Linked DNA regions of Homo sapiens: all the other regions are linked to region 1. Evidence: fine-mapped expression QTL. A gene starts in region 1. Each other region holds a variant in brackets. All regions are shown on one strand. Distances are between the middles of the regions. Region 1 holds the start of L1TD1 (LINE1 type transposase domain containing 1). Region 2 has its middle 27 kb from the start of L1TD1. Region 3 has its middle 41 kb from the start of USP1. Region 4 overlaps KANK4 (KN motif and ankyrin repeat domains 4).

Evidence for each region. PIP is the estimated chance that this variant, and not a neighbour inherited with it, causes the effect.
Region 2: its variant is fine-mapped to the expression of L1TD1 in whole blood (INTERVAL, PIP above 0.99).
Region 3: its variant is fine-mapped to the expression of L1TD1 in tibial nerve (GTEx, PIP 0.97).
Region 4: its variant is fine-mapped to the expression of L1TD1 in blood mononuclear cells (TOPMed, PIP above 0.99).

What each region holds. Positions count from the first base shown.
Region 1 is chr1:62,191,398-62,199,536 of GRCh38, forward strand. L1TD1 (LINE1 type transposase domain containing 1) reads left to right here and starts at 3,452. Exons shown (of 4, transcript NM_019079.5): 1 at 3,452-3,524; 2 at 5,038-5,131. RefSeq lists enhancers at 2,595-3,451, 3,452-4,307.
Region 2 is chr1:62,218,148-62,226,286 of GRCh38, forward strand. No RefSeq gene overlaps it. Among named protein-coding and RNA genes, the nearest start is that of L1TD1, 27 kb to the left of the region's middle. The variant C/G (reference allele first, on the strand shown) is at 4,690.
Region 3 is chr1:62,391,756-62,399,894 of GRCh38, forward strand. No RefSeq gene overlaps it. Among named protein-coding and RNA genes, the nearest start is that of USP1, 41 kb to the right of the region's middle. The variant A/G (reference allele first, on the strand shown) is at 3,835.
Region 4 is chr1:62,267,223-62,275,222 of GRCh38, forward strand. It overlaps KANK4 (KN motif and ankyrin repeat domains 4), which reads right to left. Exons shown (of 10, transcript NM_181712.5): 3 at 5,982-7,865; 4 at 4,256-4,367; 5 at 1,065-1,283. Among named protein-coding and RNA genes, the nearest start is that of KANK4, 48 kb to the right of the region's middle. RefSeq lists an enhancer at 854-1,354. The variant G/A (reference allele first, on the strand shown) is at 3,302.

The DNA.
Region 1 (8,139 bases):
TTTTTTTATATTTTTAGTAGAGACGGGGTTTCACCGTGTTAACCAGGATGTTCTCGATCTTCTGAGCTCGTGATCTGCCCGCCTCCGCCTCCCAAAGTGCTGGGATTACAGGCGTGAGCCACCGCACCCCGCCCATAATGTTTAACCTTGCCTTTTACTTAAAAGAATTCCGGGAACTGGCTTTAGGAAATCTAAATATTAAACTAAGGTTGTGGAGTGTCCCACCTCAGGAAGAAATGCTGAACAATTGATTTACAGCCTTGTTGCTGTTCGCCAGACCACCAGGTGGGTGATCCATTACTCAATAAAGCCATCAAAACCAGATAAGGCTGACCCGCATACTCTACCCCTCATGTGCTTTGCCCAGCCCAACCTGCATACTCTACCCCTGATTGTCTAATAAAGCAGAGTTAGTCAGGTAGTCCTCTCCGTTATGTCTGTGCATAAGCTCTAACAAGCCTTGTATGGGAACACTCCTTCAGCCTCATGTCAATTTCTATTGCACTGAGAGCCCAAGAACACGTGATCTTAAGTAACAGAAGGCTTTAACCTTTAAAAAATCTAATCACAGTAATCTTATTACACTGAAATTAACAGTTATTCTTTTTCTTTTTCGAGACGGAGTCTCGCTCTGTCGCCCACGCCGGAGTGCAGTGTCATGATCTCGGCTCACTGCAAGCCCCACCTCCCGGGATCACGCCATTCTCCTGCCTCAGCCTCCGGAGTAGCTGGGACTACAGGCGCCGGCCACCACGCCCGGCTAATTTTTTTGTATTTTTTAGTAGAGACGGGGTTTCACCGTTTTAGCCAGGATGGTCTCGATCTCCTGACCTCGTGATCCGCCCCGCCTCGGCCTCCCAAAGTGCTGGGATTACAGGCGTGAGCCACCGCGCCCAGCCCAACAGTTATTCTTAATATCATCAAATATCCAGTCAGTGTTCAAATTTTCGTTTTTTTTGTTTGTTTGAGACAGGGTCTTGCTCTGTCACCCAGGCTGGAGTGCAGTGGCACGATCTCAGCTCACTGCAACCTCCGTTTCCCAGGTTCAAGCGATTCGCCTGCCTCAACCTCCTGAGTAGCTGGGATTACAGGCACACACCACAACGCCTGGCTAATATTTGTACTTTTATAAGAGATGGGGTTTCACCATATTGGCCAGGCTTACCTCAGGTCTTAAACTCCTGACCTCAGGTGATCCACCTGCCTTGGACTCCCAAAGTGCTGGGATTACAGGCTTGAGCCACCTTGCCCAGTTTTTTTTTTTTTTTTTTTTAGACAAGGTCTTGCTCTGTCACCCAGGCTGGAGTGTAGTGGTGTGATTGTAACTGCCCAATGGGTTCACCTTGCCCACTGCCTACACAGAGCCCATTTATCAAGACAGGGGAATTGCAATAGAGAAAGAGTAATTCACACAGAGTGGGCTGTGTGGGAGACCAGAGTTTTATTACTCAAATCAATCTCCCCAAGCATTCAGGGATCAGAGTTTTTAAGGACAACTTGGTGGGAGGGGGGAAGCCAGTGAGCTGGGAGTGCTGATTGGTCAGATCAGAGATGAAATCATAGGGAGTCAAAGCTGTCTTCTTGCGCTGAATCAATTCCTGGGTGGGGGCCACCAAGATCATATCAGCCAGTTTATTGATCTGGGTGGTACCAGCTGATCCGTCAAGTGCAGGATCTGCAAAATATCTGTGGAATATCTCCCTGGTCTTAGGTTTTGCAGTAGTGGTCTTATCCCCAGAAGCCATTTGGGGAGAGTCAGAGTCTTGTAGCCTCCAGCTGCATGACTCCTAAACCATAATTTCTAATCCTGTGGCTAATTTGTTAGTACTGCAAAGGCAGTCTAAATCCCCAGGGTTTGTTTCGGGAAAGGGCTGTTATCATCTTTGTTTTAAACTATGAACAAGTGATCCTCCCACCTCAGCCTCCCAAAGTGCTGGGATTTTAGGCAGTAAGAAGAAATAAGGGATTAAAAGCAAAAGACCGAATTCTCTTTGTTTATTCATATGCTGTGTATTGACTGAACTACCAGATATTGAGGCTTCTTTGCTTATTAGCTGCATGACTTTGGGCAAGTCAAGTTCCACCTGAGCCTTGCAAGTCAGGCCTGGGGAGTCCAACCACCCAGAACCTTTGAGTCTCTGTTAGAGAGCAAGACCCTCTCTTAAGAAACAAAAATAAAACAAAAAAAGAGTATTGGGATATGGGGAGTTTGGCTCCTGTAGAAAGGGTAGTCTGGGAGGCCTGTTAGAGGAGTTAACATTGGACCTGAGACCTGAGGATGAACAGAAGCCATCCTGAAAGAACTGGGAAAATAAAGAGGTGGCCAGGCGTGGTGGCGCACGCCTGTAATCCCATCACTTTGGGAAGCTGAGGTGGGCGGATCACCAGGTCAGAAGTTCAAGACCAGCCTGACCAACATGGTGAAACCCCCCTCTACTAAAAATACAAAAACTAGCCAGGCGTGGTGGCATGGGCCTGTAATCTCAGCTACTCAGGAGGCTGAGGCAGGAGAAATCGCTTGAATCCAGGAGGCAGAGGTTGCAGTGAGCCGAGATTGCGCCACTGCACTCCAGCCTGGGTGACATAAGAAAACTCTGTCTCAAAAAGAAAAAAAAAAAATACAAAAATTTTCCGGGAGTGGTGGCGTGCTCCTGTAATCCCAGCTACTTGGGAGGCTAAGGCAGGAGAATTGCTTGAACCCAGGAGGCCGGGGTTGCAGTGAGCCAAGATCATGCCACTGCACTCCAGCTGTGGCAACAGAGACTGTCTCAAAAAAAAAAAAAAAGAAAGAAAGAAAGAAAGAAAAAGAAAAAAATAACTCGCAGAGGAAACAGCCAGTGCAAGGGCCCTGAGGCAGGTAGTTCCGTGTTTTTTGAGGAACAGAAAGAGAGTGTTTCTGTTGTAAGAGTAGTGCTAAGACAATGTTGAAGGGGCAGTCCGGATAGAATGAGAAGGTAGAAATTTAACCGAAACAGGAAGCCACTGAACAGTATTGGAGGGGGAGAAGGATTACAGAGGGGTCGTGGGAGAGGCCAGGGAGCAGTTGGAGGTGATTTCAGTGATCCAGGTGAGAGACAACGGGGGCTTGGACTGGGCTGGAGCTGTGGAGTTGGAGAGACGCCGGCAAATTCAAGGACTTAGGAATGGATTAACTGCGAGGGTTGAAGAAAAGGAATGAGGTGACCTTGGGGTTCAGGCCTGGGTGATGAGGCGCTTTAGTGGTGCCTTTATTCAGATTTGAGTCTGGAGTCGGGTCTGAGGGGTGGGGCTCGTTCAAGCGGAGGCACGGTGGAGACAGAGGGAATTGGACTCAGTCGGGGGGCAGCAATGGAAGTCAGCAATTGCTTAGGGCGGAATGCGATTTCCGGGGAGGAGGCGCGGGTATGTAGACAGAGGGGGTTGGGACACACCAGGAGGGGAGGAGCCAGCCCCAGAGATCGGGAATCCTCTCAGTCCTTAGTTACAAGGCTCCATCCTCACTTTGTTCGCTCCTCAGTCGTCCAGGCGGATTCCTTTTTCGCCAGGTAAGGCTGGCCCGGGTGCATGGGGCCCGGCGTGCCCTGGGTAAGGCTGGCCCAGGCGCGTGGGGTCCGGGGCGCGCCGGGTAAGGCTGGGCCAGGCGCGTGGGGTCCGGGGTGCCCCGGGTAAGGCTGGTCCAGGGGCGTGGGGTCCGGGGTGCCCCGGGTAAGGCTGGTCTAGGCGCGTGGGGTCCGCAGCGCCCCAAGTAAGGCTGGTCCAGGAGCGTGAGGTCCAGGGTGCCCCGGATAAGGCTGGTCCAGGCGCGAAGGGCGCGGGGTGCCCCGGGTAAGGCTGGCCCAGGTACGTGAGGCCCGAGGTGCCCCAGGCAAGGCTGATCCGGGTGCGTGCGTGGGGCCCGGGTAGGGGCAGGCAGTTGGCCCCCTCACTTGACTCCCTGCTCTTTCCCTTACTGTCCGTGGCGCAATGAGAAAAAAACTCTCCTAAGACTTATCTATCCCCAAATTGGAAACATGAAAGTAGTTCTGTGAAGAAAAAATAAAGTCAAGAAAATGAGGTGGTGCTTGACAAGTCCTAGCTTTAGAAAAAGGATGGAGGGGCCGGGAGCAGTGGCTCACGCCTGTAATCCCAGCACTTTGGGAAGCCGAGGCGGGCGGATCACCTGAGGTCGGAGTTCGAGACCATCCTGACCAACATGGAGAAACCTCGTCTCTACTAAAAATACAAAATTAGCCAGGCGTGGTGGCGCATGCCTGTAATCCTAGCTACTCAGGAGGCTGAGGCAGGAGAATCGCTTGAACCCGAGAGGCAGAGGTTGCACTGAGACGAGATCGCGCCATTGCGCTCCAGACTGGGCAACAGGGGCGAAACTGTCTCAAATAAAAAAAGATGGAGGGCCGGGCGTGTTATTTTCCAGCACTTTGGGAGGCCGAGGCGGGGGCGGATCACGAGGTCAGGAGATCGAGACCATCCTGGCCAACTTGGGAAACCCCGTCTCTACCAAAAATACAAAATTAGCCGGGTGTGTTGGCTCGCGCCTGTAGTCCCAGCTACTAGGGAGGCCGAGGCAGGAGAATCGCTTGAACCGGGGAGGCGGAGGTTGCAGTGAGCCGAGATCGGGCCACTACACTCCAGCCTGGGCGGCAGAGCGAAACTCCGTCTCAAAAAAAAAAAAAAGTGTTTAATTATGTGACTGGAAAAATTGATTTGGAAGTAATAACTTTTGCATTTTCTTCAATTTCCTCCGATTGTTAGGCAAATCGAATTCTTGTTCAAATTGCAAAAGGAAAGCGTGCCTTCCATAATAATAGACCCCAACTCTCACAAAGAAGAAACCATTCTCTCCGGCCCCTCCCTGGCCTCCTCAGATCCACCTCTGGGTCCTCCCATTCCCTGCAGCCCTCTCCCGACTTACACCCCAGACTCTGCTAATTGTGTGTGCCTTTTTAAGCAAACACATGCATAGATAAGTGCTTTTTTTTCCCAGTCTTCAATATAAGGTGATTTTCTACATTAAATAAACCTTAAACTTTGGTGTTATGAACTTGACTTGAATTCTAGGCACCAAGGCACAGCTTAGAGTAGACCCGAGTCCTGCTCTGCGGAGTTCGTCTTCCCAGCGAAGGTACAGAGGCGGATGAACTGCTGAGACTTGGTAAGTAGTTTAGTGGATTAGGGGTAGGATTAGTGGCGGGTAAGTGTGCGGGTGGGGTTGGGGTGGGGTATTTCATTTTTTGAGACGGAGTTTCGCTCTTGTCGCCCAGGCTGGAGTGCAATGGTGCCATCTCCGCTCACTGCAACCTACGCCTCCTGGGTTCAAGCGATTCTACTCCCTCAGCCTCCCAAGTAGCTGGGATTACAGGCGCCTGCCATTATACCCGGCTAATTTTTGTATTTTTAGTAGAGACGGGGTTTTGCCATTCGGCCAGGGTGGTCTCGAGCTCCTGACCTCAGGTGATCCTTCCACCTCCATCTCCTAAAGTGATGGGATTACAGGCGTGAGTCACTGCGCCTGGACTGGGGAGGGGTATTTTAGAGTGAAACAAGGGAAATGACCTTGGGTCTGATAAAGAAATGAGCCCTACTTATAATCTAGTGTGGGTCAGGACCCTTTTGCAGTCTGGTGCTATTAGCAGAACCCACAGTTCGTCATCGCTAGAAACCACATTTTGTTTCACATAACAGTTGTTGCAGGTTTTGCATTCTCACTACTTCAAGATTAAAAGGTAGGGCCAGGTGTGGTGGCTCACACCTGTAATCCCAGCACTTTGGGAGGTTGAGGAGGCCAGATCACTTAAGGTCAGCAGTTCGAGACCAGTCTGGCCAACATGGCGAAACCCCATCTCTACTAAAAAGTACCAAAATTAGCTGGGCATGGTGGCACGCTCCTGTAGTCCCAGCTACGTGGGAGGCTGAGGCAGGAGAATCGCTTGAACCTGGGAGGTGGAGGTTGCAGTGAGCCGAGATCCTGCCATTTCACTCCAGCCTGGGCAAGAGTGAGACGCCCTCTCAAAAAAAATAAATTATATATATATATATATATATATATATATATATATAGTTTAGTCCTGCTACTCAATCTTGTTTAGTAGTAGGTTAAGAAGCTCATATATTCCAAATTTTTTATTATCTAAAAAAGTTTTTTAGAGATGGTTTTGCTATGTTGCACAGGCTGGTCTCAAATTCCTGGCCTCAAGTGCTCCTGCTGCCCCGAAAGGTGCTGGGATTACAGGCTTGAGCCACCGCACCCAGCCCAGCACTTTGGGAGGCCGAGGTGGGCGGATCACCTGAGGTCTGGAGCTGGAGACCAGCCTGGCCAACATGGTGAAGCCCCATCCCTAAAAATACAAAAATTAGCTGGGTGCAGTGGTGCACGCTTGTAGTCCCAGCTACTCGGGAGGCTGAGGCAGGAGAATCACTTGAACCTGGGAAGCGGGGGTTGCAGTGAGCTGAGATTGTGCCACCTGCACTTCAGCCTGGGCGACAGTGAGACTCTGTCTCAAAAACAGAAGAAAACAAAACAAAACAAAACAAAACCCTGTAAATTACTTGAATGCCCACTGCTGAGGGAATTACTTATTGAACCAAAATATGTTCAAAATATGGCATGTCACACATAGAAGAGTGAGGTGTGCATATATAACTGGAAGATTACAAATGGCCTATTGAAAAAAAGAAAATAGTGTTAAAAGTATAAAGCTATTAAAAAAAAGTAAATGTCCCCATACCCAAGGAGAGAGACGTACTAACTAGAAGTCGAAGTTGGCATTCTCCTTTATTGTCCTCCCATGCACCCATAAAAACCAGGCACTTTATCTTGGTATGGTAGCATGCCTGTAATACCAGCTCCTCAGGAGACTGAGGTGAGAGGATCACTTGGTCCCTGGAGTTTGTGACCAGCGAACAGTGATCACACCACTGCTTGCCACGCTGGGCGAGAGTGAGATCTCAAAAAAAAAAGCAAAAACACAAAAGTCACCTGTACGTTGTGAGAGATACCACACCAAACTTTGGGTGGCCTCAGAGGTCAGATAATAGAGACTGAGGTGAGGGACTAGTAATTGTTCTTATTTAAAAAAAAAAAAAAGAAGAAAAGAGAAGTCCATAATCCCCCCAGCAAATTCAGAAAAACACACACACCGACCCCCCGCCGCCGCCCCACCCCGCCGATAAGAACAGGCTGCCAGTGTTGAAAAGGTAATACACCACAAAGGAAATGCAAGCAGATAAACATATGAAAAGATGGCAGTCACAAGCCAAGGCAATGCAAATCAACAAGCTTTTTTCCATCCCTAAAATTAAAGGAAGTTTATCCGCCCTCCCAACCCCCAGTCCCTTGAGGGAAGTGCTAAACATTTCTTGCCCTTTCCAACCGGTGCTCTCCTGTATTGTATACTTTTAAAGTAACCTCCTTAAAATACAAAGCAGAACTTGGGAGTACACTGGTGAAAATCTCCGGTCTCCCTAATCACTTTTTTTTTTTTGGCAGGGTCTTGCTCTGTCACCCAGGCTGGAATGCAGTGATGCAATCATAGCTTAGAGTAACCTTGAACTCCTGGGCTCAAATAATCTGACCGCCTCAGCCTCCCAAGTAGCTGGGACTGCAGGCAGAAGCCAGGACGTCTGGTCCCTGAGCCCTTTTGATGGCTACCATCCAACCCTGAGACAAAATTTGCTAAACTTGTACCAGCCTCTGCTTTCTTCTTGATCAGGGATTTTGAACCCAGAGTGCCTGGGTAGTGTCTGGCTAGAATTCAGAGTATCTGATATCTTGGATGTGAAAAAGGTCACATATATTTATTGTCATTAAACGCTAATCATAATTTAGCATTTAGCATTTGAGGCTGGGAGCAGTGGCTCATGTTTGTAATCTCAGCACTTTGGGAGGCTGAGGCAGGTGGATCACCTGAGGTCAGGAGTTTGAAACCAGCCTGGCCAACATGGTGAAACCCCGTCTCTACTAAAAATACAAAAATTAGCCGGGCATGGTGGCGTGTGCCTGTTGTCCCAGCAACTCAGGAGGCTGAGGCGGGAGAATCGCTTGAACCCAGGAGGCAGAGTTTGCAGTGAGCCAAGATTGTGCCACTGCACTCCAGCCTAATCCACAGAGTGAGACTCTTGTATCAAAAAAAAAAAAAAATCAGCATTTGATACAGTTAACAA
Region 2 (8,139 bases), 27 kb after region 1:
CTTCTTTTAAAAAGGCTGCATAATATTCCTTTGTATGTTTATACCACATCTTCATGTACTCACCTTTAGATGGACGTTTTTGTGGTTTTCACCTCTTGGATATTTTGAATAATGCTGTAATGAACATGGATGTGTAAATATCTTTTTGAATTCTTGCCCCAAAATGGAATTGCTGGATCATATGGTTTTGTTTTGTTTGTTTATTTTTTGAGACAGAATTTCACTCTTGTTGCCCAGACTGGAGTGCAATGGCATGATCTCAGCTGACTGCAACCTCCGCCTCCCAGGTTCAAGCAATTCTCCTGCCTCAGCCTCCTGAGTAGCTGGGATTACAGGTGTGCGCCACCACGCCCAGCTAATTTTTTTGTATTTTTAGTAGAGACGGGGTTTCACCATGTTGGTCAGGCTGGTCTTGAACTCCTGACCTCAGGCGATCCACCTGCCTCAGCCTCCCAAAGTGCTGGGATTATAGGCATGAACCACCCTGTCCAGACCAGATCATATAGTAATTCCACTTTTAATTTTTTTTTTTTAAACAGGGTATTGTTTTGTCACCAAGGCTGCTATGTAGTAGCATGATCACAGCTCACTGCAGCCTTGGCCTCCTGGGCTCAAGTGATCCTCCCATCTCAGCTTCCCAAGGTACTGGGATTTCAGACATGAGTCACTGCATCCAGCCTATTTTTAGTTTTTTGAGGAACCTCCTTACGGTTTTTTACAGCAGCCACACCATTTTACATCCCCATCTACTACCAGATTTGTAAAGAAATAGAAACATCCTAGGGACTTAGAAGCTCCCAGCCCACGTGTCCTTGTCTTTTTTTTTTTTTTTTTTTCTTGAGATAGAGTCTGGCTCTGTCACCCAGGCTAGAGTGCAATGGCAAAATCTTGGCTGACTGCAACTTCCGCCTCCCAGGTTCAAGGGATTCTTCTGCCCCAGCCTCCCCAGTAACTGGGACTACAGGCGCACGCCATACTGCCTGGCTAACTTTTGTATTTTTAGTAGAGATGGGATTTCACCATGTTGGCCAGGCTGGTCTCGAACTCCTGACCTCAAGTGATCCACCTGCCTTGGCCTCCCAAAGTGCTAGGATTACAGGCATGGGCCACTCATTACACCCGGCCATGTCCCAGGCAGCATAGGAAGAGAGTTAGAGGGTACCTGTAGATCACCAAATTCTTGCAACCACCTCGCCTGGCCTGAAAGGAGACTTCTTAAGGGAGGTGATAACTGAATCAAGTCCTGAAGGATCCTAGGACTTAGCTCAACAAGGGCAGGAAAAAGGGCTTCCAGATAGAAAGAATAGCCTGCCGGGCGTGGTGGCTCACACCCGTAATCCCAGCACTTTGGGAGGCTGAGGTGAGCGGATGACGAAGTCAGGAGTTAAAGACCTGCATGACCAACATGGTAAAACCCCATCTCTACTAAAAATACAAAAATTAGTCGGGCATGGTGGCGAGCGCCTGTAGTCCCAGCTACCTGGCAGGCTGAGGCAGGAGAACTGCTTGAACCCAGGAGGCAGAAGTTGCAGTGAGCTGAGATCACACCCCTGCACTCCAGCCTGGGCGACAGAGTGAGACTCTGTCTCAAAAAAAAAAAAAAAAAGAGAAAGAATAGCCTGAAAAAACCTAGAGGAGAGAGGAGGACTTGTTTTTTGAGATGGAGTTTCACTCTTTCACCCAGGCTGAAGTGGCACGATCTTGGCTCACTGCAACCTACGCACTCCCCGCCTCCCCTTGGGTTCAAGCAATTCTCCTGCCTCAGCCTCCTGAGTAGCTGGGATTACAGGCATGCGCCACTACACCTGGTTAATTTTTGTATTTTTAGTAGAGAGGGGGTTTCATTATGTTGGCCAGGCTGGTCTCAAACTCTTGACCTCAGGGGATCCATCTGCCTCAGCCTTCCAAAATGCTAGGATTACAGGCGTGAGCCACCGTGCCCGGCTGGAGAGAGGACTTGACTCATGCAGAGAATTATTTCTCCTTTAGTATGGCTGGGGCTTAGAGATATTTAAAAATCCATATTTTTTACTTCTCTATTATTAGCTTTTAAATGACAGTATGCAGACATTTAAGTTTTCTGTATGGTAGTATAAAAACAGGGCAGCAAAACTCCAGGCTGTTAGGGATTGTGACATCTATCTCTCCTTTCACTGCAACAATGGAGGATGTGAACTCAATACCGGTGGCCCAAATATTTTTATGCCAAGAAAGACTTTCCTTGACTTGATAGAGTTTATGGTCTTAGTGGGAAAACCAGACATTAAAGAATGTTAAGGCTTCTGAGTTATATGAAAGGGACAATACTGTGTTCTCTGAACACCTGAGAAAGAGGACTGAGGAGCCTCACACTTCAGATGAGACATTGAAGAAGTCTAGAGATGTTATTATACAACATCCTGACCCAAGTCTATAAACAAATAGGGATATTTCAATTATTTGCTTAACTTGCATAAGAATATGAAAAGTAGGCCGGGCATGGTGGCTTGCGCGCATAGTCCCAGCACTTTGGGAGGCCGATCACCTGAGGTCGGGAGTTTAAGACAAGCCTGACTAACATGGAGAAAGCCTGTCTCTACTAAAAATACAAAATTAGCCGGGTGTGGTGGTGCATGCCTATAATCCCAGCTACTTGGGAAGCTGAGGCAGGAGAATCGCTTGAAACCCGGAGGTGGAGGTGGCAGGGAGCCAAGATCGTGCCACTGCACTCCAGCCTGGACGACAGAGTGAGACTCCATCTCAAATAATAATAATAAGCAATTAAAGCTGCTAAAAGTCAATTATTTATTTATTTATGTTTTGAGATAGAGTCTCGCTCTGTTGTCCAGGCTTGAATGCAATGGTGCGATCTCGACTCATTGCAACCTTCACCTCCCGGGTTCAAGCAATTCTTGTGCCTCAGCCTCCCTAGTAGCTGGGATCACAGGTGCTGGATAATTTTTTTTGTATTTTTAGTAGAGATGGGGTTTTGCCATGTTGGCCAAGCAGGTCTCGAACTCCTGACCTCAGGTGATCCGTCCAACTTGGCCTCCCAAAGTGTTGGGATTACAGGTGTGAGCCACTGTGCCCGGCCAATTTTTAAATTAAATCTTTCCTCTAAAATAACCATTGGACCTTGCAGCCATTTTGTTTCTAATCACCATATATACAAATGTAAATTTTTATGAATAAGAATTTCCTTTATTTAGTCCTACCCTCCTTCTCCACCCCACCCTTATGGTAGGACAGGCTAGCAAGACTGGAATTAATAGACCAAAGGGTCTGGTCATTTTATGGCTTGTGCTACATATTATCCATATTACTTTCAAAAACAGAGTTAGTGATTTATACTGTCTCAACTGAGAGAGCTGGCTTTTCACCTCTTCCTGTCAACAAAGGGCATAATTTAAAACACATTTTAATGAAGAAAAAAATGGTACCTTGCGATGCTCAATGTTGACTTCTAGTGTGATTAGAACACCTCTGTTTGTATTACTTCCACCATACTGCACTCATCTAGCTATGCAAATTGGGCTTTTAATTTTGTATCTTTTTTTTTTTTTTTTTTTTGAGGCAGAGTCTTGCTCTGTCGCCCAGGCTGGAGTGCAGTGGCATGATCTCGGCTCACTGCAAGCTCCACCTCCTGGGTTCATGCCATTCTCCTGCCTCAGCCTCCCCAGCAGCTGGGACTACAGGCGCCTGCCACCACGCCCGGCTAATTTTTTTTTGTATTTTTAGTAGAGATGGGGTTTCACGGTGTTAGCCAGGATGGTCTTGATCTCTTGACCTCGTGATCTGCCTGCCTTGGCCTCCCAAAGTGCTGGGATTACAGGTGTGAGCCACCACACCCGGCCTTTTTTTTTTGAGAAGGAGTTTCACTCTTGTCCCCCAGGCTGGTGTGCAATGGCACAATCTTGGCTCACTGCAACCTCTGCCTCCTGGGTTCAAATGATTCTCCTGCCTCAGCCTCTTGAGTAGCTAGGATTACAGGCATGCACCACCACACCTGGCTAATTTTTATATTTTTAGTAGAGATGGGTTTCACCATGTTGGCCAGGCTGGTCTCAAACTCCTGGCCTTAAGTGATCTGCCCACCTTGGCCTCCCAAAGTGCTAGGATTACAGGCATGAGCCACGGCGCATGGCCGAATTTTGTATCCTTAAATGTGCTTTATGCTGGGCGTGGGGGCTCACGCTTATAATCCCAGCACTTTGGGAGGCTGCAGCAGGAGGATTGCTTGAGCTCCGGAGTTTAAGACCAGCCTAGGCAATATAGTGAGACCCTGTCTCCACAATACATTACAAAATCTGGCCAGGTGTGGTGATGTGCGCCTGTAGTCCTAGCTACTCGAGAGGCTGAGGTAGGAGGATTGTATGAGCCCAGGAGGTCGAGGCTGCAGTGAGCTGTGATCACACCACTCCACTCCAGTCTGGGTGATGAAGTACACCCTGTCTCAAAAACATAAAAATAAGGCCAGGCGTGGTGGCTTACGCCTGTAATCCCAACACTTTGGGAGACGGAGGCAGGCAGATCACCTTATGTTGGGAGTTCGAGATCCGCCTGGCTAACATGGTGAAACCCCATCTCTACTAAATATACAAAATTAGCTGGGCATGGTGACGCACACTTGTTATCCCAGCTACTCAGGCTGAGGCAGGAGAATCGCTTGAATCTGGGAGGCGGAGGTTGCAGTGAGCCGGGATCATGCCA[C/G]TGCACTCCAGCCTGGGCAACAGAGTGAGACTCTGACTCCAAAAAAAATAAAAGTTAAAAAAATGTGGTTTATCTTATTTTTTTACAGGGCTAAAGAACTGGGTCTATTTCACCCACCATATCTTTTATTCCCTCTAATTTCATGTTTTCAACTTTTTCTTTAATTGGCTTTAATTCATTTTTGATTCATTTGTATGAAGTGTCCTTTATTATATCTGCTTGGGGTTTATTTTTTTTTTCCTTTTTTTTTTTTTGGAGACAGAGTCTCACTCTGTCGCCCAGGCTGGAGTACAGTTGCATGATCTTGGCTCACTGCAACCTCTGCCTCCCAGGTTCAAGCAATTCTCCTGCCTCAGCCTCCTGAGTAGCTGGGATTACAGGCGCCCACCACCATGCCCAGCTAATTTTTTTTTTGTATTTTTAGTAGAGACAGGGGTTCACCATGTTGGTCAGGCTGGTCTCAAGCTCCTGACCTCAGGCAGTCCACTCGCCTCTGCCTCCCAAAGTGCTGGGATTACAGGCATGAGCCACTGTGCCCGGCCTCATTTATTTTTAAAAGTTACAAAAATGGAATTAAATGAGAAGACAGACATCAGACAAGATGATGATAGTTAAAATTTAAGGGGAAAAATAAGACTCCAAGAAAAAGATACAAACCAGCCCTTTTTATCTTTAATTAAATAGAAAATACAAACTAATTCTTTTAACTTTTATTTATTTATTTATTTATTTATTTTGAGACAGGGTCTGGCTCTGTCACCCAGGCTGGAGTGCAGTGGCACGATCTTGGCTCACAACTACCTCCGCCTCCCCAGGCTTAAGCAATCCTCCCACCTCAGCCTCCCAAGTAGCTGAAACTACAGGTGTGCGCCATCACCCCCAGGTAATTTTTGTACTTGTTGTAGAGATGAGGTTTTGTCATGTTGCCCAGGCTGGTCTCGAACTCCTGGGTTCAAGGGATTCACTTGCCTTGGCCTCCCAAAGTGCTAGGATTACGGGCATGAGCCACTGCGCCCGGCTACTTTTATTTACTTTTTGTTAGAGGTAAAAAGAGAATAAAGGTGGCCAGGCACGGTGGCTCACGCCTGTAATCCCAGCACTCTGGGAGGCCAACGTTGGGAGATTACTTGACCGCAGGAGTTTGAGACTTGCCTGGGCAACATAGTGAGACTCTGTCTCTATTTAGAAGAATCAATATAAAAGAGTAAGATAAAGAACTACCCGTAAATATGTATTAAGAGATTGTTATGGACTGAATGTTTGTGTCCCCTCGAAATTCATATGCTGTAGCCCTAACCTCCAATGTGATGGTATTTGAAGGTGGGGCCTTTGAGAAGTACTTAGGTTTAGATCAGGCCATGATAGTGGACGCCTTGCAGTGGATTAGTTTCCTTATAAGAGGAGGGACAGAGAGCTCTGTCTTTATGAGCACACACCAAAGAAAGGCCATGTGACCATACAGTGAGATGTCAGCTGTCTGCAAGCCAAGAAGACGGCCCCACCAGAACCTCACCATGTTGGCACCCTGATTTCAGACTTCCAGCCTCCAGAATGGTGAGAAAATAACAGCCTGTTGTTTAAGCCACCCAGTCTATGATACATTCTTAAAGCAGCCTGAGGTGACTAAGAGAGAAGTTTACTAGGAATGGGTATAGAAATTTTATTTAAATGTATTTTCTGGGGTTTTTTTTTGTTTTTTTTTTTTTTTTGAGACAGAGCCTCGCTCTGTCACCCAGGCTGGAGTGCAGTGGTGCAATCTCGGCTCACTGCAACCTCCGCCTCCCGGGTTCAAGCGATTCTCCTGCCTCAGCTTCCCGAGTAGCTGGGATTATAGGCACCTGCCACCATGCCCAGCTAATTTTTGTATTTTTGGTAGAGACGGGGTTTCACCACGCTGGCCAGGGTGGTCTCAAACTCCTGACCTCAGGCGATTCGCCCGCCTCGGCCTCCCAAAGTGCTGGGATTACAGGCGTGAGCCACCGCGCCCAGCTGTGAAATGTATTTTCTTTTTTTTTTTTTTTGAGACAAAGTCTTGCACTGTCACCCAGGCTGGAGTGCAGTGGCGCGATCTCGGCTCACTGCAACCTCCATCTCCCAGGTTCAAGCAATTCTCCTGCCTCAGCCTCCCAAATAGCTGGGATTACAGGCGCCTGCCACCACACCTGGCTAATTTTTGTATGTATTTTGAGACGGAGTCTCGCTCTGTCACCCAGGCTGGAGTGCAGTGGCGTGATCTTGGCTCACTGCAACCTCTGCCTCCCGGGTTCAAGCGATTCTCCTGCCTCAGCGTCCTGAGTAGCTGGAACTATAGATGCACCCCACCACGCCCAGCTAATTTTTTGTATTTTTAGTAGAGTCAGGGTTTCACCGTGTTAGCCATGATGGATTTTTGTATTTTTAGTAGAGAGAGGGTTTCACCACATTGGACAGGCTGATCTCGAACTCGTGACCTCAAGTGATCTGCCCACCTCGGCCTCCCAAACTGCTGGGATTACAGGCGTGAGACACCACGCCTGGCCAAAAGGTATTTTCGTTGTTTTTTTTTTTTTTTGGTTTTTTGAGACAAGGTCTCACTCTGTCACCAAGGCTGGAGTGTAGTGGTGTAATCTCGGCTCACTGCAATCTCTGCCTCTTGGGTTCAAGCGATTCTCGGGCCTCAGCCTCCCTAGTAGCTGGAATTACAGGCGCATCCCATCATGCCAGGCTAATTTTTGTATTTTTAGTAAAGATGAGGTTTCGCCATGTTGACCATGCTGGTCTTGAACTCCTGACCTCAAGTGATCCGCCCACCTTGGTCTCCCAAAGTGCTGAGATTACAGGTGTGAGCCATCACTCCCAGACTAAATGTATTTTCAACATTAATAAAGGTGATTATATATATAGTTTCTCTTTTGACTTAATAATTACATTACAAAATTTCTTTCTTTTTTTTTGAGACGGAGTCTCACTCGGTCCTCCAGGCTGGAGTCCAGTGATGCGATCTTAGCTCATTGCAACCTCTGTCTCGGTTCGAGTGATTCTCCTGCCTCAGCCTCTCAAGTAGCTAGGATTACAGACACCCGCTACCACACTCAGCTAAGTTTTTTTTTTTTTTTTTTTTTAATGTAGAGACAGGGTTTCGCTATGTTGGCCAGACTGGTCTCAAACTCCTGACCTCAAGTGATCTGCCCGCCTTGGCCTCCCAAAGTGCCAGATTACAGGCGTGAGCCACTGCGTGTGGCCCAAAATTTCTTAATATAGCACCATCTTTGATTCTTCAATTTCTGGAATAAACTCCACTTGATCTTGTGTATTATTCTTTTTTTTTTTTTTTTTTGAGATAGAGTTTCACTCTTGTTGCCCAGGCTAGCGTGCAATGGCACAATCTCTGCTCACTGCAACCTCTGCCTCCCGAGTAGCTGGGATTATAGGCGTGCACCACCACGCCCAGCTAATTTTTGTATTTTTAGT
Region 3 (8,139 bases), 200 kb after region 1:
TGCTACCCTAGTGGCTATGGCAGTGGTTATGAATACAGACTCAGGAGTACTGTACTCAGAAAGCAACCTCTCCCAGTGTGTTCTTCCTGAGTGTAGAAGATCACTTTGTCTTGTATTTGGCCAAGTGCAGTTTCCTTCTCCTCCCTCTAAACCTCTAAATGCAGGAGTGCTTAAATCTCAGTCTTTGGGCATCTCCTCTACCTATACTCATTTTCAAGGTGAACTCATCTAGGCCCATAGCTCAAATGCCATCCACATACAATGACTCCCAAATTCTATCTCCAACTTTATCCTCTCCCCCAGCTCCAGACTCTATCTCTATCTTAACCTCTCCACTTGGGCATCTGATAGGACTCTGACGTGTCACATGATTTAAGACATCTGGAATAGAAATCTTGCTTTCCGCTCCTCACCTGCTCTTCTCCCAGTCTTTCTCAACCCTGTAAAAGACACCACCCTTCACCCAGCTGGCTCAAGTCGAAAGTCTACAAGTCAGCCCTAACTCCTCTCCTTCTTTTAAATCCAATTTCAATGCAAGTCCTATCAATTCTGCTCCTCAACATTTATCCTTATTCAGCCTCTTCTCCCCAGATCTGCTTGCTGCTTTTGTGTGTGTGTTGATAACTTTCATGAATCATATATTTTATTTTCCCAGTATTATAGACTAGATGTTTGTGGCCCCCCAAAATTCATACGTTGAAACCTAATTCCCAAGGTTTTGGTATGAGGTGATGGGCCTTTGGGAGGTGATTAAGTCATGAGGGTGGAATCCTCATGAATAGGATTGTGCCTTTTATTTTTAAAAGAAGGCTCCAGAGAACTCCCTTACCCTTCCACCATTTGAGGACACAGTGAAAAGATGACCATTTATGAACCATGAAGCAAGGTCTCAGCAGACACCAAATCTGCCGGCATCTTGATCTTAGACTTTCCAGCCTCCAGAACTATGAGAAATAAATTTCTTTTGTTTATAAGCCCCCAGTCTATGCTAGTTTGTTATACCTGCCCAAATGCACCTAGATACATTTTGTCTTTCAGTATGTAGGTTATAATTTTCCCTTTAAAAACAGTGTCTTCAGGGGTGGGTCCTGAATATCAAACTTTTATTGCTCTCAATTTCAAACCAGTATAAACACCTAATCCTAGTCCTGCTTTGACCACAAGCATCTTATTTAATTTTTTATTTATAGACAGGATCTCACTCTGTCACCCAGGCTGGAGTGGGCTGATCTGGAGGAGAATCAGACAGAGGCTGTGAGATATTCAGGCCAGTTTTTGACACATTGAGCATAAGGTGCTTTGGTATAAACAGAGATTTTTTAGTCGGAAATTGGTGGTGCAAGATTAGAGTTTTAGAAAATGGTTGCTGCTCAAGGTACACATTGAGCAAGATCATAGCTTACTGTAGCCCCGAACTCCAGGGCTAAAGTGATCCTCCCACCTCAGCTGTCCAGCTACTTTTAAATTTTTTTTGTAGAGATGAGGTCTCTCTGTGTTGCTTATGCTGGTCGTGAACTCCTGGCCTCAAGTGATCCTCCCACCTCAGCCTTCCAGAGCACCAGGATTACAGGTGTGAGCCACTGTGCCCAGCCTGACCACAAGCCTCTTGAAGGACTTGGTCTCTTCTCACACCAACAGCTTCTTCCCAAGCCACTCACTATTCCATCCTCTATAATCTCCTCCACCCAAAATTGACACTGCTCTTGACAAGGCAATGACTTTCTAATTGCCAAATCCAAAGGCTTATCTCTAGACCTAATCATACTCGACTCTCGGATCACGGGAAATTGCTGATCCTTCCTTCTGCTCTGGATCCTGCGGCCCCTGCATCCTGCATTGCTCCAACCCCTCTGGCTCAAAGGTGTCAGACTTATTTGATTACTCTTCTTGCAGACTTTACCCTTGATCTTCCTCTCTTCTCATTCTTCACCACTGGTTCTTAAACTTATTTTTTCAAGGACACCTTTGAAAACATGCTAGAAGCTATGAGAGAGTCATCCCTAAAATAAATAAGTAAAAATGCCTATATTCATGGACACATAATACCCTAAGTAATTTCAGGAGTTTCTTCACACCCTCAAGCCAAGTTAGACCCTCTGCTCTACTTTCTCAGCTGGGGGGGTGCCAACCACCCCCAGGGCTTCCATCATCACCCATATGTTGATGGCTTTCAAATGTGTACCTTGAGCAGCAACCATTTGCCAAAACTCTAATCTTGCACCCCCAATTTCCAACTAAAAAATCTGTTTATACCAAAGCACCTTATGCTCAATGTGTCAAAAACTGGCCTGAATATCTCACAGCCTCTGTCTGATTCTCCTCCAGATCGGCCCATTGCATAATGACTCACCATTCGCCCCATTACCAAGGAGGAATTGGCTCTTCTTCTCCCTCCTCTTGCTGCTTCCCAGGCTCCAGCCTTTCTCATCTCTTGCCTGGATTACTGGAGGAGCCTTCTGCTTGATCTGCCTGTCTCCCTCATTGCCCTCTTCAAACCCACCTGCTACACTGCAGCGAAATTTATCTTCAGCCTTTCCCTGCATCAAACCCCATTGCTCACAGCAGTACTTCCCCAAGCGTGTTTCAAAGAATACAAAGTCTCCATGATATTATATGAATGGAAAAAGTTTTCATGGTCAATTAAGTTGAAGAAAAGAATGAAAATTAGTTAGGCTTAATTACATCTCAGAGTCTTCAATATGCTAAAACACATTTCGGAGCTCCAACTGGGAGATATGAAATAAAGCCTTTGTCAAACTATGTGGCAACAAAAGAGCCTAGTGTACCTCAGAATACACTTTGGATGCCACTGGTCTATGAGCTGAACTTTAATTTCCTTGTCCATCTCTTTTTCTTTTTGACTTCTAGCTGCTATTTTTGATAGTGTAGACAATGGGAGGAAGGACAGCAGTGGCTTCAGGAAAACTAGCGTTTAAATCTCAGCACAGGACTTCTGGTCAGATTATTTCTCAGGACATGCGCCGTCTAGTGTCCCTGGGCCTCTCGGGAGGCTGAGCTCTGTGGGCTGTGGCACCAGGCGCCCTGGGCCTCTGGCTTTCAGCTGAGTTTGGGCATTGGAAAGCAGTGGTAGCAGAGGTGACGGGAGGGTGTTCATTCCCCACTGCCACCTTCCCTCTGGTGGTTCTGCAGTGCTCCCACACTCTCCCTGATCCCAGCTCTTGTCTGGTAGGGGTGACTTGCCTTCTCTTCCCCTTTAGGCCTGGGGGTGATCATGGCTTCCAGCTGCTACTAACCCCTGGGGGCTCCGTCATCGCTTGTTAGCCCCCTTAATTCTGCCCACACCTTTGTAAATAGTCCATTCCTTAAACTCTTTTCAATTAAACCTTCTGAGTACGCCATCCTGTCTTCCCTGATGGAGACAGGACTTTAGTCTCCTTACAAAATGGGGATGGTAACATCTACCTCATGAGACAGCTGAGAATGTTCTGTGAAAGTACCTGAGGTGTGCTGCACCCAGTACAATGCCTGACCCCCAGCAGTGCCCACTGAATAAGAGATGACTACCCCAGTCCTGCCAGTTGTCCAAGTAGTGACCTACTCAAGAGTCTCTCTGCTCCCTTGCCAGTGATCCAGGCTGAGGTGGGCAGAGGGAAATTATGCCAGGCCCCAGTCTGAAGAGACCAAGCAGCCATCAGGACGCAGGGTCCTGTCAGCAGTCACAGAACAGGACTGACCTGCAGGTCCTACTCCAGGGCCCCGGAACAGAGGATCCTAACAGGGATTGGAACAGCCAAGGGTCAGGGTGTTTCTGTGCTCAGCATTCCTCTTGGAAGAAAGCAGCCTCTGTGCTGGGCCCAGATGGTCTGGCCTTCC[A/G]CACTGGCCAATTGTTTCGCGAGGAGGAAATCCTTCCAGCTTCCAGTCTACTCCTTGTCCCCCACTGAAGTGATCAAGTGGCCTGGAAGAGGGGGTGCTATTTGGAAAGGGAGGACACTTGAATTAGGTTTCCGGTACATTTCCCAACAGGCATACAATGGGGAAATTTTAAAAGGGGTTAATAAGCCAGGTGCAGTGGCTAGTGCCTGTAATTCCAGCTACTTGGGAGGCTGAGGCAGAAAGATCACTTGAGGCCAGGAGTTCAAGACCAACCTGAGTAACAGCAAGACCTTGTCTCTAAAACAATTTTTTTTAATAGTAAAAAAAAAGGCCAGGCGCAGTGGTTCATGCCTGTAATCCCAGTATTTTGGGAGGCCAAGGTGGGCAGATCACTTGAAGCCAGGAGTTTGAGACCAGCCTGGCCAACATGGCAAAACCTCATCTCTATTAAAAATATAAAAATTAGCTGGGCGTGGTGGTTCATGCCTGTAGTCCCAGCTTCTTGGGTGACTGAGGCACAAGAATTGCTTGAATTTGGGAGGCGGAAGTTGTAGTGAGCTGAGATTGTGCCACTGCACTCCAGCCTGGGCGGCAGAGCAAGACTGTGTCTTAAATAAATAAATAAAATAGTAATAAAAAAATAAAAGGGGCTGGGCACAGTGGCTCATGCCTGTAATCCCAGCACTTTGGGAGGCCGAGGCGGGTGGATCATCTGAGGTTAGGAGGTCGAGAGCAGCCTGGCCAACATGGTGAAACCCCGTCTGTACTAAAAATACAAAAATTAGCCAGGCATGGTGATGGGCGCCTGCAATCTCAGCTACTTGGGAGGCTGAGGCAGAAGAATCACTTGAACCTGGGAGGTGGAGGTTGCAGTGAGCTGAGATCGCGCCACTGCACTCCAACCTGGGTGACAGAGTGAGACTCCGTCTCCAAATAAATAAATAAATAAAAATAAAAGAGCATTAACAGAAATGATATGTTAGAGAACACTTAGTGAATCTGCAGGCAGGCAAATTTATTTATATTGAGCCCTCATATAGGAAATTAATGTATTGGGTGTGTTGAACAAAGCATACCTGACTTATGGCACGTAATCAAAATGCAGTTTTATTTTGTTTTCTACTGTCTCTTTAAATCAATTCAGTGGGTAAAATTTTCACAATCTCTCGAAAATCAGGGAGTTTTTCTACACTCTTAAAGCCAGGAATAGACAACCTAATTCAGAAACAAAACAATACAGTATGGTATCCAACACCTCAAACTTCACTCTAGGGCAAGTCTTCTTTGCCTTCTCCCCACCCAGGTGCTCTCTGGTACAAAATTGTCTCCCAGGACCAGGATCCCTCCTGTAGCAGAGGTGCCAGCTGAAGGAAGTCTGAGCTCTCCCATCACCCTGGGGCCTCAGCGATTTAAAATGTAAAATTTCTCCCAGCATCAGGGAGTCCCCACGTTGATCTGCCACAGAGAGACGTGACTAGTCAAACGCCAAATGAGAATGCAGAAAAAGAAGCCAAGTCAGGAGGGAGGCGGGCCTCTGCCTGGAAAGGGAGCAGGGAAGGTTTCATGGCTCTCTTCCCCGGGGCTCTTTGCCTTCCCATCCCAAAGTGGGGCCACAGGCCCTGGGGACCCTGAGGCTATCCCAGCACTGCCAAGGATCTAGCTCTGGTAGCACAGGATGCCCTGATGTCAAGCAATTCACGAGTAGGATAGGATAGTGGGATTCTTAACTCTCCACAAGCCATAGTAAATGCAAGCTTGGGGGCCAGGAGGAAGGAGGTAAGAAGGAGAAGGTGTCACACGCCAGGGCCAAATTAAATATCTCTATCCCCCAAGACACTGCAGGACTCTCCATGACGTGCTAGCTAAACAGGCTGAGTTGCAGCTCTAGAAATTTATTTTGAGAACCGCAGATCTGTGGAGATGGTGAAATTGCAAGTCTAAACAAATCTCTTTGTCAAGTGAGGGCACAGGTGGGTGTGGATGACATCCAGACACCTGGCTTGGAGCTATTTGGGAGGACAGGCTATGAAGGAAACCCTTGGCCAAGGACCCTAAATATTTTTCTAACTTAGAATGAGAAGGTAGTGGTCATAGCCCCTCCATTTGATCCCAACCCCTTCAACCTCCCCCAACCAGACCCACTACCTGGAGCCCCTGGTGTGGTAGGCAGAAAAATGGCCCCTCAAAGATGTTCATGTCTTAATCTACTGAACTGGAGAATGTTATCCCACATGGCAAAAGGGACTTGGCAGATGTGATTAAACCAAGGATGTTGAGATGGGGAGATTATCCAGTGGGTGCCCCCAGTGTCATCACAAGGGTCCTTATACGAGAGGGGTGGGAGTGTCAGAGTCACAGAAGGGACTGACAGCAGAAGCAGAGTCAGAGGGAGGCCAGCGTTGGCTTTGAAGATGAAAGGGGCCATCACCAAGGAATGGACAGCCTCTAGAAGCTGAGAAGACAAAGAAATGACTTCTCCCCTCAGAGCCTCCAGGCAAGTACAGCCCTGCTGCCTCCCTGACTGTAAGGTGGTGAACAGATTTCAGACTTCTTCGGAACTATAAAATCATTAACTGTGTTGTAAGACACAAAGTTAGTACCTGTTACAGCAGCCATAGGAAACTAACACATGTGGTAAGAGAACGTTGATATGGTTCTTTCAGGTTCCTAAAGGCCCAGTTAAAAATAATCCTGATGAGAAGACATCACGCCACCCACCCACCCACCCCACTCCTGTCCATTTTACTGTGGGAGAGCCCACTTCCAAAAGCTGGATGTTTCAGGGTTGTCCATATCCAGAACTTAGTCACAATCACGGACACCACAGGGTGTCCCAGTGTGAAGTATAGCCGTCCCACTTCATGGGCTGACGCCCCATCCTGGAGTGGATGCATTTTGATATAAGGATGAGTTCCCTTTTAGAAAGAAAGCACCAATCGAGACTTTTTTCACCAATTATGACATTAGTTAAAGGATCATGGTGACTCATAGGGTGGTGGGAAGAATGAATGGCCAGCCTACATAATTTCTCGATGAGAAACATCAGCAAGTGCTAAATGGTATTCGAGTATTCTTTTTTTTTTTTTTTTTTTTTGAGACACAGTCTTGCTCTGTCGCCCAGGCTGGAGTGCAGTGGTGTGATCTTGGCTCACTGCAACCTCCACCTCCTGGGTTCAAGCGATTCTCCTGCCTCAGCCTCCTGAGTAGCTGGGATTACAGGTGTGCACCACCACGCCCAGCTAATTTTTGTATTTTTAGCAGAGAGGGGGTTTCACTATGTTTGTCAGGCTGGTCTTGAACTCCTGACATCAGGTGATCCACCCACCTCGGCCTCCCAAAGTGCTGGGATTACAGGCGTGAGCCACTGCGCCCCGCCTAGTATTTGAGTGTTCTTGAGGAAGACATCAGCAACTGGAAATACTGGGGATAAAAACACATGCCAGCCTAAGATCAATACTCAATGTTAACATTATTAGAACCATGTAAATATTATTCCCAGATGAGCCATATAGTGCGTTGTGATTTTTTATATGATACAATTTTTTGTTTTCTGTCAATAATTGCCTTTGTTTTGTTCCATTTCTTAGGTAACCATCACTATTTAATTTTCAAACTCTGGAACTAAGTATAAATCTCCTAAGATGTTTAAACACATGAGGCAATCTGAAGTGTTCTTTTTTTTTTTTTCTTGGTTACTCCTGAATCCCTCCATCATCCTGGTCCTCTCTGGACCGCTCCTCTTTAGGGTGATTGACAGCAATACCTCTTATGCTGGATTAGCTTTGCTTCTGGACTGAGAGTGCTACATGGGCTGAGAGGTATCCTAGAGAAAATTGCCTTGGAGTATGTGCCAGTTCTGATTTTTTCCTGAAGAGACTTTATGGCCTCTATTCATGCAGGGAACATTCTCAATCACATTGTATTTAGCCTCATCCTGGACCAACTCTCACATTTTTTAACTGACAATGGGTCAAGTAGACTTGGCCGAAGATGGCTGGCAGGGTCTCAAACTTTTTAAGTGAACACAGACTTGAAAAGAAGAAGCTGTTAATTGTGCCCTGAGGGTAGACCTGGCTCCCACTGTACAAGGGGGCTCAAGCACATACCTGGTTCATCACCCAAAGTGGACCCAAAGTGGGCAAGGATAGTGAGGCTTTCACCCAGGAAGGGGAGCCACATTATCACCTGAGTCCCTAAGATCAGATAAATAAATGAAGGTTATTTAAAATGGTGACAAGATGGGGCTGGGTGCGGTGGCTCATGCCTGTAATCAAAGCACTTTGGGAGGCAAAGGCAGGCGGATCA
Region 4 (8,000 bases), 76 kb after region 1:
CCAATCCATACCAGAAACTTTCTTCAGGTTATTCTTCCATGAAGGACACCGTAAGTACTAACAGAGTCAGTAATATGAGACTCGTTGAAGCTGGGTGTCCACAGTGACAAGCACTCTTCCTGTGTTGATCTGAAGGCAGGCTCAGCACCAAGAGGCCTCAGGTGAGGCTTAAGGGCACTGCTGGGCTCAAACTCCTAACCTCAAGGGATCCTCCCATCTCAGCCTCCCAAACTGCTGGGATTACAGCTATAAGCTGTGGTGCCTGGCTGCTCCCATCACTTTAAAAGACACATCACCAGCCAGGCACGGTAGCTCATGCCTATAATCCCAGCACTTTGGGAGGCTGAGGCGGGTGGATCACAAGGTCAGGTGTTCAAGATCAGCCTGGCCAACATAGTGAAACCTCGTCTCTACTAAAAAATACAAAAAAATAGCTGAGGATGGTGGTGAGCACCTGTAGTCCCAGCTACTCAGGAGACTGAGGCAGGAGACTCACTTGAACCCAAGAGGCAGAGGTTGCAGTGAGCCGAGATCGTGCCACTTCACTCCAGCCCGGGTGACAGTGCAAGACTCCGTCTCAAAAAAAAAAAAAAAGACACATCACTTTAAAAGCCAGCATGGTCAACAGGACAGGCAGAAAAGCTTATGGGTAACAATGAGAAGGACTGGGGCCAGGGTCCCTATTCTGCTAGCTGCGTCCCCACACTTCCCTAAGTCTCTGTTTCCACAACTGTAGAGTGGGGAGGTCACAATAACTTCTGTCCTGCAGGACTGTTGGAAGTTGTGTATATAGGATAATACTTGTAAAGTCCTTCACAGTTTCAGCACTAGGTAAATGTTGACTTTACAGGTAGATATCGGCTGTGACAGTACATTCCACGAAAGCAGGAGCCATATATCTACTTTATTCAACCAGTGCACAGTGTGGGCATGAAACAGAGACTTAAACAACACTGGCAAATGGATGGGTACATGAATGAACAAATGATCGCATGAACGGGTAGATATATGCCCTTGACCTTTTTCAGAGGAACAAGTGCCCGCGTTTGTGTCCATTTGCTCACCTCTCGGCCTTGGAGTGGGGGACTTCTTCCCCAGGCCCACTTTCCTGGGCAGCATGGCAGGTGCCCTCAGGGATGCCCTGCCCAGCCTCGCAGGTGAGATGGGCATCTTTGACATGCTTGTGATCTGGGCCGTCACACTTCTTCTCTGCCTCGCTGTCAGACAAGTCCTCTGGGGTGCTGTCCTCACCGCTGGTCTCCTCACTTGAGGTGGTCTCATACCTGGGGTAGAAAACAAAGGTCACTCGTCCTGTCTTTCCTGCCCAGTGCCCATGTCAACACCAGTGAGAGCTGGGTGGGCCTCGGGTAACACTCCGCAGCTTGCTAATCTCCTCCCCCACTCTCTACACCTGCCGGCAGGGTGACAGGCTCCCAGGAATCTTGGTGTCAGAAAGACATGCAGTAAAGGGCCCTGGCTCTGGTGCAGAGAGGCTATTTGGGGAGACTCAATTAACTGTGCTTATTGTCAAAATAATTAACTGTGCTCATTGCAGCAAACCCACGAGCAGCCTGTCCCCTCACTGGCTGATGCGTTCGGTGATCTAGACAGGCCATCCAGCGTTCTCATGAAAGCATTTGCTTGTGCAATCCTAACGTTAGGTCCGGAGAGGGGCCCAACTCTAGCCAAACATCCCCACCTCCACCCTGAATTCACCAAGTTGCCTGCAAATCTTCACATCTCTGGATGAGACCGAGACCTCCCTTCAGACTGCTCCAGCCCAGCTTGCACTTGGCAAGGCATGAACTCCTCCACACCTACATCCAGTGCTCTGTGGGATACCCCAGCACAGCACCTGCCTGTCTTTGCTGCAGCCTGTTTGAACTATTGCTTGGAGCAGCAAAAAGGAGAGCACAGGCCACTTGACTCGTGGCCCTCTTTCCTGGTAGTGACGCTTATGCTCAATTATAAGTGACTCTGTTGAGTTGGCAGACCAGAGGCCATGGAGGAAAGTCCTGGAAGATTTATTGACTCCTCTACTGATATTCAACAGGAGATCCCTAATGGAGAATGCTGGTGGTAAGATGATTTCAGGTTCTTGGGCCATTGGACACAGCCACAGAGACTGGTGGCCATGGCCTCCATTGAACCCCCTAAGGACCCTTCTCTGAATGGTGGCCTCTACATAAGCCCCTGTGCTCAATGGATTTGTAAACTGAGTCTGCTCCCTGCTATGCTTGCATTCTGTCTCACTTAAACCCCAGACATTTCTTCCTCTATTATGTATGGAACAGCCTTTCATGTTTGTGATTAAGAGAGTGGAGGGCATATTACATTTACCAAACAGTGCTCATCTTGGAACTGCTTCCATAAAAACTTTGCCTGGAAGTTCACTTATTCATTCAACAGGAATTTATTGAGCACCTACTATATGCCAGGCGCAGTTCTAAATCCTATACCAAAGTCCCTGCCCTAGTGGAGCTTATATTCTAGAAGGTAGAGTCAGAAAATGAACATGTAAACAAATATTATATTTAGGTAGTGATAAAAACAATGAATAAAATTTAAAAAAAAAGAGCCATGGGATAGAAGGATAAGAGGAGTGGCTACTTTAATTAGAGCAGAAGTTCCTAACCTTAGTGGTACATTAGAATCATTTGAGGGTGTTTAGAATTCCCAGTATGTGGACTGCACAAAGACTAATTAAACCAGAGTGTTCAGGGAAAGGATTCAGACACTGGGATGTTTTAAAAGCTCCCCTGGTGTTTCCAGCGTGCAACCAAGGCTGAGAATCACTGTACTGGAGTAACAAATGCTGAGGAATGTCCAGGAGAGGAGGCCTTTAGCAGGGAAACAGCAAGTGCCAGGGCCCTGAGATGGGCCTGACCTCAGCCTGTTGGAGGGAGGGAAGGAACGGCAGTGGCAGGGGCTAAGGCTGGGCAGAGCCATGATTTGGTTCTTCCACATTTGGATGCAGAGTGGGGACCATTGGGGGCGTTTCAGCTGGGGAGAGACGTGACCTATACTAGGCTTTGAGATTAGGCTGATTCTCCTTTTCTGTACATGAACTGTGAAAGCACATGATCCCGTGTCAGATGTTAGTGGAAGTGGGAACAGCAACCCTCCTGTGACACCCAGTTCATCATTTTTTTTCTTTGCTTTGCTTTTTTTTTTTTTAAGACTGAGTCTCGCTCTGTCACCCAGGATGGAATGCAGTGGCACAATCTCGGCGGCTCACTGCAACCTCTGCCTCCTGGATTCAAGCGATTCTCCTGCCTCAGCCTCCTGAGTAGCTGGGACT[G/A]CAGGTGCATGTCCCCACACCCAACTAATTTTGTATTTTTAGTAGAGATGGGGTTTCACCATGTTGGCCAGGCTGATCTTGAAATCCTGGCCTCAGGTGATCTGTCCACCTGAGCCTCCCAAAGCGCTGGGATTACAGGCATGAGCCACAGCGACTGGCCCCAGTTCATCATTTCTGATGTTTCCCCTTGTTGGCGTCTAATGTCTTCCCTTCTGGTGTGACTCAAATTAGCAGGGATTCTGAGCTCTCTGGGCAGCCTTCAGGGTTTGGGCTTCCACAGCATCCTGTGCTTCCTCACCTAACAAAACTTATCTCAGCACATCAGCATTTCATCTTTATTTCTGTTATCTGTGAGCTAAAGGCAGAGACCTTTATTTATTTGACTTTTTAATCTCCACGACCGAGCACACTGTTGGCATTTAATAAATGTTTGTTGAATGACTGATTTAGAAAATATTCTAAATCAAACATTCAATTCTATAGAATATATGAGGTTTTGTTCATGTTCTAAGCCAATAGTCTAGTTGTTTTTCTTCATCCCCAAACACTTGGGTTTGGCTTGCAGGAAGTTAAAGAAAGAAAAAAATTAAATGGATGAAATTTGAAGTTCCACGAATTAACAGAATTTGTACTAGTTTCAGTTTTATGGTTCAGGTTAAATGTCTTCCTCTAAGGGCCCGTATACCCCCAAAACTCCCAGAAGCCACCTGGAGTCCTGGCCCTGGGGAAGACCAAAGCCAAGACATATTAAAAGCAGAGGTTCCAACAGACCACCACAGCTGGCAAGAAGCCAAACGCATGCAAACCCGAGATGGAGTTTTAAAGGGCCATTGAAATTAATTCCCTTGAAGAGGAATGAAAACCAGATGCCTCCCCCTAGGAAAAGAGAGTGCAAAGGACAATAGCAGGAGAGGTAGCAAGAAAGGCAGTCTGAGCTTCACAAGCGATGCTTACCCACCGTTAACCCCAACAAACTGAAGGTTCTTTTTGGTCCCATTACCTCCTGCACGGAAGCCATAGTCTTTCTTTTTCATTATGGATTTAAGGCTGGTCGATGGGGAGATCTCTAGGCAGACACAACATCACAGGTTAGAATGATCTTGGGGATGCATGGGAATGTAGCAAAACCAGGATATTGCTTTGAGGGGACAAGGGTTGCAGGTGTGTGGAGAGGTAAGGAGGGACAGGGAACCAGATCATGTAAATCAATGTTTTGGGGACCTCTTGGAGGAGCCTTGCTTTCTGCTCAATGTTGGGAGAACTGTCTCTGTTAACAATGCCCCTCTAAGTGTGGATGAAGAACCATGTGGCGTAGGTGCCATTGTTGTCCCTGTCTTACAGCTGGGAAATCTGAGGCCCAGACTTGCTCAGTGAATGGGAGTGTAGGAGCAGAACGTAGGCCTCTGGACTCATGGTCTAGCACCCACTTCTGCTCAAGGGCACCTCAGTGGTCCTTCCTGGCTCACAAGTGCATACTGACACTAGGGTTGTGGGGGTGGTGATGACACCGTGCTCACAGTAGATACACGAGCAAGGACACAGATCTTGCAATGTGCTCAACAGGACAGGAGGCGGCTCCCAACGGGGAAGGCTAGAACTAGCACTGAAACAATGAGAAAGCAGTCAAATTGTGATTTGTGGCAGGAAGCAGACTCGCATGCTGCCCTGCAAAGCAAAACGTGGTTCCACTTTACCCGACAGTGAAGAGGGTTTGATCTGTTACAACAGGAAGTGCTGCTCAGCCGAAGGGCCCATTTCCATATGTGAGCAGCACTTAATCTCCTGCCCCTGTACACACACACATGCACGTACACACACACATGCACGCAGAGAAAATATTCAGTGAACTATACCAGATATCAATATAATGCTCCTCCAAAACCAGGCCAGAGAAAACCTCTACTATGCAAGAACCAGAGAGGAACACAGGAATGCAAAAGCCCAGGAAGAGGTCTGGAGTCCACGCAGCAGGGCCATTCTTGGCCCCAGACACTGCCTTTGCACAATGCAAATGAGAACAGCCCCCTCTGGGTGGATGTGGTGCTGCAGCGCAAGGCTTGGCAAATGGAGTGTGGGCTGGCTTTCAACTCTCATTTGCCCTCCCTGGCTGGCATCTTTGTGCCCTGTGCTATCCATACAGCTGTAGGCAGTGGGCCCATAGTCAGACCCAACCTTAGAGCAAAGGCAAGAGTAGAGGTCCCGAGCCTCCACTGTCACACACATCAGTTTTTATTCCACTGGGTTCCTGGAAGTACTAAAATCTTTTTTTCTTTTTTTTTTTTTTTGAGATGGAGTCTTGCTCTGTCACCCAGGCTGGAGTGCAGTGGTATGATCTCGGCTCACTGCAACCTCCGCCTCCTGGGTTCAAGTGATTCTCCTGCCTCAGCCTCCCAAGTAGCTGGGATTACAGGCTCCTGCCACCATGCCCGGCTAATTTTTGTATTTTTAGTAGAGATGGGTTTTCGCCATGTTGACCAGGCTGGTCTTGAACTCCTGATCTCAGGAGATCTTCCCACCTCCGCCTCCCAAAGTGCTGGGATTACAGGCCTGAGCCACTGCTCCCAGCTGCTAAAATCTTTTTAAAAACATGTTAATATAATTGAAAACCTTGTTCCCTCTGCCTTATCATGTGAAGGAGAAATGGCTCCCTGTCTCAGGCCCCTATATTGATGGTATTTACCCACTGGCGGGGAGGAGGAGGAGGCCGGTGGCTCCTTGGGTGGGTGAGCCTGGGCCGAGTAGGCCGACAGCAGCAGGTTGAGGGAGCTCAGCAGCTGGCTCTGGATGCTGCTGAGCTTGGAGGCTGGCTGCTTGATGGCGCTGGCCAGCTCCGGGTACCCATGCTCCAGGCAGTTCCACTGCTCCTGCAGGAGCTCCTGGATCTTCTTCACATACTGCCCAATAGTGGCATCCGTTGGCGAGCTTGGTGGCCTTCCCGGGTGCTCCTTCCCTGGGAGATTGGAACTGGTCTCCTCCCTCCCTGCTGGGGGAGTCTTTCTGTCGCTGCCCCACAGAAAGCCTCCTGCTCCCCTGGTTCCTCCCTGAGGGCCTCCTTCCTGTTCAGTGCCTGCTTCTTCAATCCTGAGTTCAGTGGAGAGGAAGCTATGTACAGAGGAGGTAAGGACCTGCTCGGGTCCCTGTGGCAGTGACAGCTGGGGCAGAAGCACACGTTCTGCTGGGCTCTGATTCCCTTGTTTATGACCATCTGGCCCCCATAGGAGGCCATTCTCCTCTCCTCGGTGCCCCCAGCTTTCAGACTCCATGCTGCCTAGAAGGTTGACTTCAATGCCCTTATCACACGACTCCCTGGTCAAGAGTCCATGGACAGGGTCAGTGTTCACCATCACGTCCGTCTGGCCCTGAGTGTCTTTGGCGTTCTCTTGGTGAAACTGTCCTTCCAGTTGGGCTACAGTGAACTCCAGCTCTCGAATTCTTTGCTCCCTAGCTTTGATTTCCTCTTCCTGCTGCTGGAGAGCAGTTCTGACCTGTGCCAGTTCCTCGGTTCTTCCAGACAACTCTCCCTCCAGGGCCGAGACCTGCTGTTTCAGGCTGGAGATGCTGCCTGGATCCACCCTGGCAAGGCCCAGGCTTTCCTCAGTTACCCTGATGCCAATGCTTCTCATGTCCACCTCTACAGGTGGCGGGGGTGGAATCTCGCTGATGTTGAGCTCGATTTCTTCCAGGAGGAGCTCATTCTCAGGGATGGGTGATGGCAGAGGTGGCGGGCTTGGCGTAGGGGAGCCAGGGGTGAACAACACCTCTGCTTCTCTGGCATTGTGTTCATCTTCCTTGTCCTCTAGAACTACAAGCACATTCTGGAATGAGAAAGGAGGGCCTGGGAGAGGGAGGTGATTTGGAACCTTCACCACACCCTCTGGAGGCTCAGCTCCCTCCTGGACCAGCTCTGGAATCCGAGTTGATGCTCGTGGGCTGGAGCTGTGGAAACCTGCCAATCCTTCTGCAGGTTCAAAGGTGCCATCACAGACACTGCCTTCACCCTGAAGGGGAGGGAGGGCAGGAGGGGCAGGGGGCCCCAGGCTCAGGCCTGGCTCCTCAGAAGCCCTGCTGTGCAGCAGCGTGGCAGGCATGCTGGATGCTCTCAAGAGCTGGGGCCGTCCACTCCCAAAAGTGAGCTCGGCATCCTCTGGCTCAGCAGCTTCCAACTGTCTGGTGGCCTCTGCCAACAGAGCCTTCCTGTGGTAGCTCACCTCACTCCTGCTTGTTGAGGCCTGGGGGGCATTACCAAGCGGTGGTGACTGGTTTTGCTCCTGTGTCCCAAGTGATGCCTCCCTTGGCACCACGGGAGACCAGTTTTGGAGGGGCGGGGCTGCAGGGGGGCGAGCCCCACTGTCAGGAAGGCTGAAGTTTCGGGGCAGAGTGCTAAATTTGGCCTGCTTGGCCCTTCTGTGGATAGGAATTCTTTTGATAGTGTTTCCCTTCTCGATGTCATCCACATACTTGAGGAAGTCCAGGTCTAAATGAAAGCCATATGGGGTCTCCACAGAATAAGGGTGGCTCTTCGGAGGGTCTTTCTCTTCATCCCCCTGAGAGGACTGGTCTTTGGCTGGGAGACATAAGACAAGTTAAAAAAAAAAAGCACAAATTTAATTAAGCATTACAGGGCGATGAGGCCTAATATCTCTGATTTTAACTTAACGCTGTCACTTGAGACTTCTTCTAAATGTTCTAGCCTCGAAAT